2 linked regions of the Homo sapiens genome follow. The protein of the gene in region 1 purifies or fractionates together with the protein of each later gene. This does not show direct contact. Each region holds a gene or a part of one and is shown on either strand. Other genes may lie near its edges. The genes, in order: BUD23 and KIF2A.

What was found.
Region 2: the proteins of BUD23 (region 1) and KIF2A fractionate together in Homo sapiens (co-fractionation; one large-scale study listed by BioGRID). This does not show direct contact.

What each region holds. Positions count from the first base shown.
Region 1 is NC_000007.14:73,686,597-73,690,414, forward strand, and holds part of BUD23 (18S rRNA (guanine-N(7))-methyltransferase), read left to right. Parts: intron 1-39; coding exon 40-135; intron 136-221; coding exon 222-304; intron 305-402; coding exon 403-499; intron 500-3,818.
Region 2 is NC_000005.10:62,309,097-62,312,914, forward strand, and holds part of KIF2A (kinesin-like protein KIF2A), read left to right. Parts: intron 1-3,818. UniProt on the Homo sapiens protein: Plus end-directed microtubule-dependent motor required for normal brain development. May regulate microtubule dynamics during axonal growth. Required for normal progression through mitosis. Required for normal congress of chromosomes at the metaphase plate.

The sequences.
Region 1 (3,818 bases):
ACTCCTTTACCATGTCCACTTGTGTTTCTGCCTTACCAGCTCACGGATGATTGATATCCAGACCAGGATGGCTGGGCGAGCATTGGAGCTTCTTTATCTGCCAGAGAATAAGCCCTGTTACCTGCTGGATATTGGGTGAGATTCTGGGGCCTGGTTCAGATTGTCTAAGGTGGTGAAGTGTCTTTGTAAACTGACCCTGAGTGTCTGGTCATGTCTTCCAGCTGTGGCACTGGGCTGAGTGGAAGTTATCTGTCAGATGAAGGGCACTATTGGGTGGGCCTGGATATCAGCCCTGCCATGCTGGGTAAGTATGTCCTGTCTGGCACCAGGGTGGATTACCCTGATGGGTGTGGAGAAGCCACAGGTATTTCTCTTTCTCTGACTGCCTTTTCTCTAATGTAGATGAGGCTGTGGACCGAGAGATAGAGGGAGACCTGCTGCTGGGGGATATGGGCCAGGGCATCCCATTCAAGCCAGGCACATTTGATGGTTGCATCAGGTGAGGGTCTTTAATTCCTGCTTTTATTTATTTAGAGACAGGGTCTCACTCTATCACTTAGGCTCTAGTGCAGTGTCTGTGATTATGGCTCACACTGCAGCCTCCACCTCCTGGGTTCAGGTGATCTGCCCACCTCAGTCTCCTGAGTAGCTGGGACTACAGGCCCACACCACCGTACCTAGCTAATTTTTTGTTTTTTTGAGATGGAGTCTTGCTCTGTCACCAGGCTGGAGTGCAGTGGTGTGATCTTGGCTCACTGCAGCCTTCGCCTCCCAGGCTCAAGCGATTCTCCTGCCTCAGCCTCCCAAGTAGCTGAGATTACAGGAGCACGCCACCACACCCAACTAATTTTTGTATTTTTAGTGGAGGTGAGGTTTCACTATGTTGGCCGGGATGGTTTCAATCTCTTGACCTTGTGATCCACCCTCCTCGGCCTCCCAAAGTGCTGGGATTACAGGTGTGAGCCACCGTGCACAGCCTAACTTTTTTTGTATTTGTTGTAGAGATGGGTTTTTGCTATGTTGCTCAGGCGATCCACACACCTGGGCCTCCCAAAATGCTGGGATTATAGGTGTGAGCCACCCTGGCCTCTTTCTTCCTGCTTTTAGTCCTGCAAGCCAGTGCCTCCCAAACCTGGCTGTGCAGCAGACTCATGCAGATATTTACAAATACACATCCCATGGGATTTTCAGATTTACAAGGTTAGAGCAAGGCCCAAGAGTGTATTTTTTTGGATTCTAAAACTTTGCAGTCTGGCCAACATGGTGAAACCCAGCCTCTACTAAAAAGCCAGACGTGGTTGTTGTTTTTTTTTTTTTGAGATGGAGGCTCTCTCTGTTGCCCAGGCTGGAGTGCAGTGGCGGGATCTCGGCTCACTGCAAGCTCCGCCTCCCGGGTTCAAGCCATTCACCTGCCTCAGCCTCCCAAGTACTTGGGACTGCAGGCGCCCACCACCACGCCCAGCTAATTTTTTTATATTTTTAGTAGAGACGGGGTTTCACCATGTTAGCCAGGATGGTCTCAATCTCCTGACCTCATGATCCGCCCTCTTCAGCCTCCCAAAGTGCTAGGATTACAGGCGTGAGCCACCGCGCCCAGCCTAAAAAGCTAGACATGGTGGTGGCCACCTGTAGTCCCAGCTAGCTACTCAGGAAGCTGAGGTAGGAGAATTGCTTGAACCCGAGAGGCGGAGGTTGCAGTGAGCCGAGTCCACGCCATTGCACTTCCAGCCTGGGTGACAGAGCAACACTTCATCTCAAAAATAAAACTTGTCTACTATTGCGATTATTTTGCATTGCCGGGTTCGGGCACCACTGGTACAGATTCTGTGTCAGCTTTGTGTGTCTGGTGGGGCAGAGGAGGTGGTCTTTTAGTCTCTAGCGGCCATTTTATGGGCCCCAGCCATCTTGTGGGCCCCAGCAGCCATCTTACTTTATTTGCCAACAGATAACTGGTAGAGAGCGTCTGGACTTGCTCTAATCTCTTAAGTGCTTCACAGTCCTTTCTCTGTAATCAGAGTCGGGTTAAACATCCACATAGCACTTCAATAACAGATCTTAGAATGTTAAAATTGATTAAGTTTTTCTTAGGCTGCTGTGATCAGTTCTGTTTAGTTTTTGGTGTGGTGTGGGAGTGAAAGTGAGAAAATAGGGGAGGAAGTTACAAATCATTACTTGCAGGGGAGACTTCCTTTGGTTACCCTAAGTTGAGTGGTGGGGATGTGAAGTGGGGAGCCAGGTGAGAGGTAAAAATTCAGATTAGAAGATTTTCCTTTTACATCTGGGAACAAGACCCAGGGGGGTTGGGGAATAATTTCAAGGGTAGCAGATGCTTTTTGGTAATGGTCAGATGAGGTGTTTTAAGCTGTGAAAAACCGAAGGCCAGCAGTATGGTCTGTATGTTTCGGAAGGGGATGGTCAGTTTTTGTTTGTCTTCGGGGAGAGGTGAGATGGTATAGCAAACTGTTTTTTTGGAGACGGATTCTTACTGTATTGTCCAGACTGGAGTGCAGTGGCACGATCTCGGCTCACTGCAACCTCTGCCTCCTGGGTTCAAGCGATTCTCCTGCCTTAGCCTCCTGAGTAGCTGGGATTACAGGTGCTCACCACCATGCTTGGCTAATTTTTGTATTTTAGTAGAGATGGGGTTTCACCATGTTGGCCAGGCTGGTCTTGAACTCCTGACTTCATGAACTGCCCGCCTCAACCTTCCAAAGTGTTGGGATTACAGGCGTGAGCCACCGCACCCGGCCCAGACTTTTTTTTTTTTTTTAAACATTTGCTACATGTAAGGCGTACAAGGTGCTGTGGAGTACAGGGAAATGAAACAGTTTCTGCGTGTAAGACTCTCCACGGTTTATTAGGTGCTTTAGGACATGGACCAGGCAACTGAATATAAGGGCATGAGTGGTGTGTGCCCTAGGGAGTCATGGGGCTGCCAGAGCACAGGAAAGCCTTGGGTGGAGGGGCTGCACCTTGAAGGCTGGGAGGAATTTGGATAGTCAAGGAGAGGGTTTCTGAGTGAGGGAACAGTGGGCAGAGGCACAGATGCCGGTGGGAAAGGGGTCTGAGATGAGAGGGATGAACGAGAGATTCCACGGAAGATGGGGTTGAGTGTGGTTGCTTCCTAGAAGGCACTTAAGTGTGTCCTAAGAAGTTTGGGCTTGATGGAGTAGATGATGGGGAGTTGGCAGGTGACGGGATCAGATGTGTGTTTAAGGAAGGTGATTTTCTGGTGAAAGAGGAGAGAGAGTTAGGTGGAAGCATTTGAGCTGGTAGCACTGAGCATTGGTGCGGGGAAGTGAAAGTTGGGAGAGGCTGTGGGACAAGCCAGTGGGGTGGAGGTAGGGCTCTGTGTGTGTACAGCAGGGCGGAGGGGAAGGGCAGGAAGGAAGACATAGTGACTGGTTGAGGTTTTATTTATTTATTTTTTGAGATGGAGTCTTGCTCTGTTGTCCAGGCTGGAGTACAGTGGCACAAGGCTTACTGCAACCTCTGCCTCCCAGGTTCAAGTGATTCTTCTGCCTCAGCCACCTGAGCAGCTGGTATTCAAGGCACATGCCACCAAGCCCAGCTAATTTTTGTATTTTTAGTAGAGACGGGGTTTCACCGTGTTGGTCAGGCTGGTCTCGAACTCCTGACCTCAAGTGATCCACCCATCTCAGCCTCCCAAAATGCTGGGATTACGGGTATGAGCCAATGCACCTGGCTGCTTGAGGTTTTAAATCTGGGGGTTGTAAAGACACTTAACAGGTAGAGTGGAAGGGAGTGATTTAGGAGGAAGGGTGATGGGATGGCTGTGTGTATGTGAGTAGTCTAAA
Region 2 (3,818 bases), on another chromosome or scaffold:
TATCAGAAAAAGTATATGATATTTGATTTATACATTTTAATTTCTACGGAGCATATTTTATTTAAATTTATTGAACTTGAAGCAATTTTCGTTCTTTTCAGCCTTCACCTTCAGCCTATACCAGAAGTTCCCAGACATACAAGAGCTTTGTGTTCTTACATAAGTGCTACTAACCTAAAGCCACATTTCAAAAGCGGTTTGCCTATAAGAAATTAGGGAAGTCATCACAGTGTGTTATTATCCTAACCTATGGTCATGTATCTTTTTATGTGCCTCAGATGCATGATGGAGTTGGTGGAAGGCAGGAGATTAGTAGAGAACTTCGAAAGAACAGAAGGATCATTTGCATTGGACAGTAGTGTTTCACAATAGAAATTGATGTCTGGGAGAATGCCCCTCAAGCTTTCCCTTTTTCACTTTAAAGAAGCTTGTTTGCTTCCTCTCACTTCCATAACGTCTATATTGGATAAAACACTAGTGGTTATTATAACAAAAATAAACTTTGCAGTTGGAGGAACACTAATATCTGAGACAGTAGAAATGACATGAGTAAAGAAGGGCTGCTTCAGACCATTATTAACTGGTGACTTGATGTTTTTCTTTTGGCTTGCTGATGGCGATCCATGTCCCTATTTCAGACCACACTTTTCCCATCAGTGATACTCTTACACTAATAAACATATCCCAAGGGCAAACAGGTACACTAAAATGAGCTTATTCCTATCTTTCAAGACCATGATGAAAACTATCCTAATGAGTCTTCACTGATTACTAAAACCAGATGGCCAGTCAGCATCTGAATTCCTAAATCATTCTGTATTATTCATGAGACAGCATATTTCCTTAAGTATTAATGTTTGGGTCTGTAACTTTTTTTTTTCCACTCCTCTCAGCTCATACCTATGGGTACATATTCTTAATACTATGTTTTTAAACTGCATGGGGTAATGGGACTTACTAATAACTAATAATTCTTTTTTTTTTTTTTTTTGAGACAGAGTCTCGCTCTGTCAGTGGTGCGATCTCCGCTCACTACAACCTCTGCCTCCCAGGTTCAAGCGATTCTTATGCCTCAGCCTCCCAAGTAGCTGGGACTACAGGTGTGTGCCACCATGCCCGGCTAATTTTTGTATTTTTAGTAGTGACAGGTTTTTGCCACGTTGGCCAGGCTGGTCTCGAACTCCTGGCCTCAAGTGATCCACCCACCTCAGCCTCCCAAAGTACTGGGATTACAGGTGTGAACCACTGTGCCCAGCCTCTAATGACTCTTAAATTCCCTGAATGCATCTGTGTCATTACCCCCATTCCCACCCCCACTACTGGGATGTCTAGCAAAATTCCTTGCACATCGTTTTTGAATAAATCATACATTATTGGATTTTTTGTTTTCAAACATTTTAATTAATCATTAGAATGACATCTTAGCTGGAAGTGAAACCTTCCATCTGTGCTCCTCTGTACTGCTACCTCCCTACTCTGGCCCTCTACTTCCCGCTGGCCTGTTAGTCAGGAACTACAGCGTTAATTGAAATTGAGTGATCTGCTAAGGTTAATCTGACTTTTCTGGTTTTCTAAGGTTATCAGTGACAGGGGTTAGGCTTGGACTGCTAAGATTATTCTCTGCCACAGGAGATAACCTGGTATGAAATTGGACTGGTGTGTTTTCTTACATGTGTCTTCCTATTTTTCTGATTCAATTCCTTTCCCTTTTTAAAACCCACTGACTCTTAAAAAAACCTACAATCTTTCTGTCGTGTAGCTAGTTTGGTTTTTTTTTTCTTTTAGCTGTGCTGTTAACAGTTCTGTAGTAGCTGTGACTACCCTTTGGGGACTGGGGAAGAAATGGGAAATGTTGAACATTTGGAAGCTGCAGCTAATATGGGATTGTTCTTTGGGGGCGGGTCTCTTAGTCACAGTACTGTGACTGTATTGATACATGTAATCTGAAGAGAATCTTAGAATATTTCCACCAGAAAGGTTTTTGGAGATAAACTAGTTTTCATTTTTATAAATGTGGAAACTTGAGTCCCAGATCACCATAAGTGACTTATCTAGATTCATACAACTTGTCAATGGCAGCCAGGAACCTGACATGCTTAGCATAGAAATCAGACTATCAAGAACTATGACAGTAAAGGAGGAATTCTCTGTTATTTTGGAACCGTATACCGCTTTTTACAGCCCAGTCAAGATGTAGGAAATTGCTTCTTACTTCGGAGAAAGGCACCAGCGAGCAGTGTTACAGAGCTTGATTAGAATGATCCCTGGTAAGAAGTGCTATGTTACTACAAGTTCACCAAACCTAAAATTGTGGGAGGAAAGTATTCTTGTTTCTTAGTTAAGTATTGGTGTAAAGAGTTCCTTTTAACATCTGAAATCAAGAGGCAATTGAAGATTTCAAAGGACCCATCAGGAATTTTGGAGTTCAGGGCAGGCAAAGAAAATCTTTAGAAAAGATTTTAAATGGCCTAATTCTTTATATGCTTTGCCACATTTTTCTTCTGCTAGTTCATCTTTACACGTCACTATATAGGCTTCTGGAGAATAGCATGTGTAAATTTAAGTAATAAAGATGAACCATGTGGCAATACAGTTGTTCTTTAGGTACAATTATGTGATTGATTATGGGGGTGGGATGGAATAGGGGCATTTGTGACCTAATAGTTCCCTTTTCCCTGAGGACTAGGACGATAATGTTTCTGTATATGGATTTGTTAGGGCTTAATAGTTTTCCAAGTGCTTCAAGACATGTTAGCTAATTGGATCTTCACAGGAACTCTATGAGGTAAGCAGGATAGAAAGGTGGCAGATTATTGGTTTATAGGTGAAGAATCTGAGGTTGGATTATTTGCCAAGATCACATGGTTAATAAGGAGCATAGCCTGGGCCAAAGCCCGAATCCCTTCACTCCCAGCTCTCTAAGTGCTGCTGACAGATGTTTGCTGATTATGGTGTGAAGTTGTATACTTTAGTATTTCTTTCTGAGACATACAAACCCCTGTAGTAAAATTCTTTCCACTACTACCAAAGAAGCTCAAAAAACTTAAAATAGGCACTTATTGCTTCCAAAAGTACCACAGAAAGCCAGGAATCTGTATTCATTGCCTAGCCACTTGATTCTTATGACAAAGATTTTGAAACTCTGGGGAAAGGCTATGTGTCAACTTGTTTTATGTGTCATGATTGTTAAAATGCTAGAGAAAACAGCAAAGAGCCAGTTAAATCTGTGTCTGCTCAAATAAGACAAGGGGCAAGAGTGTGGAAAATCCAGAACAAGATTCCCTGAGAGATCATCTAGACCCCGTTCTTTCTAGTCAGAAGTATAGTTGTGATTAATATGACATTAATCTTTTGCAAAGTTTAATTCTTGGATTCAGCCATCTGCTTTAATTTTAACACATCTGTTTTGTAACCTAAAATAATTTTAAGGTGTTTGTTTATTTGTTTGTTTGTTTTGAGATTACGATTCTTAAGAATAGATACAAGTTTTAAACCTTGGATAAAACTAATTTTTATTCTTCTGGTTCAGTTGTAGAACAAATACAGGTTAAGTTGTCTTCCAGCTCTTTTAGATAAAGCAATATTAGTGGTTTTATAGTGCTAAGTGAAAAGAGACATTAGAATTTCACCATATTAAACTATCTCCCAAGAGTAATATGAGTGAGGGAAGTGTTCCTTTTAAAAGTCATGCTTCTAGGCTGAGCATGGTAGTTCATGCCTGTAATTCCAGCACTTTGGAGGCCAAAGCAGGAGAATTGCTTGAGCCTATGAGTTTGAGGTTATAGTGCACTATGATATCATTACCCACTACAATAAAA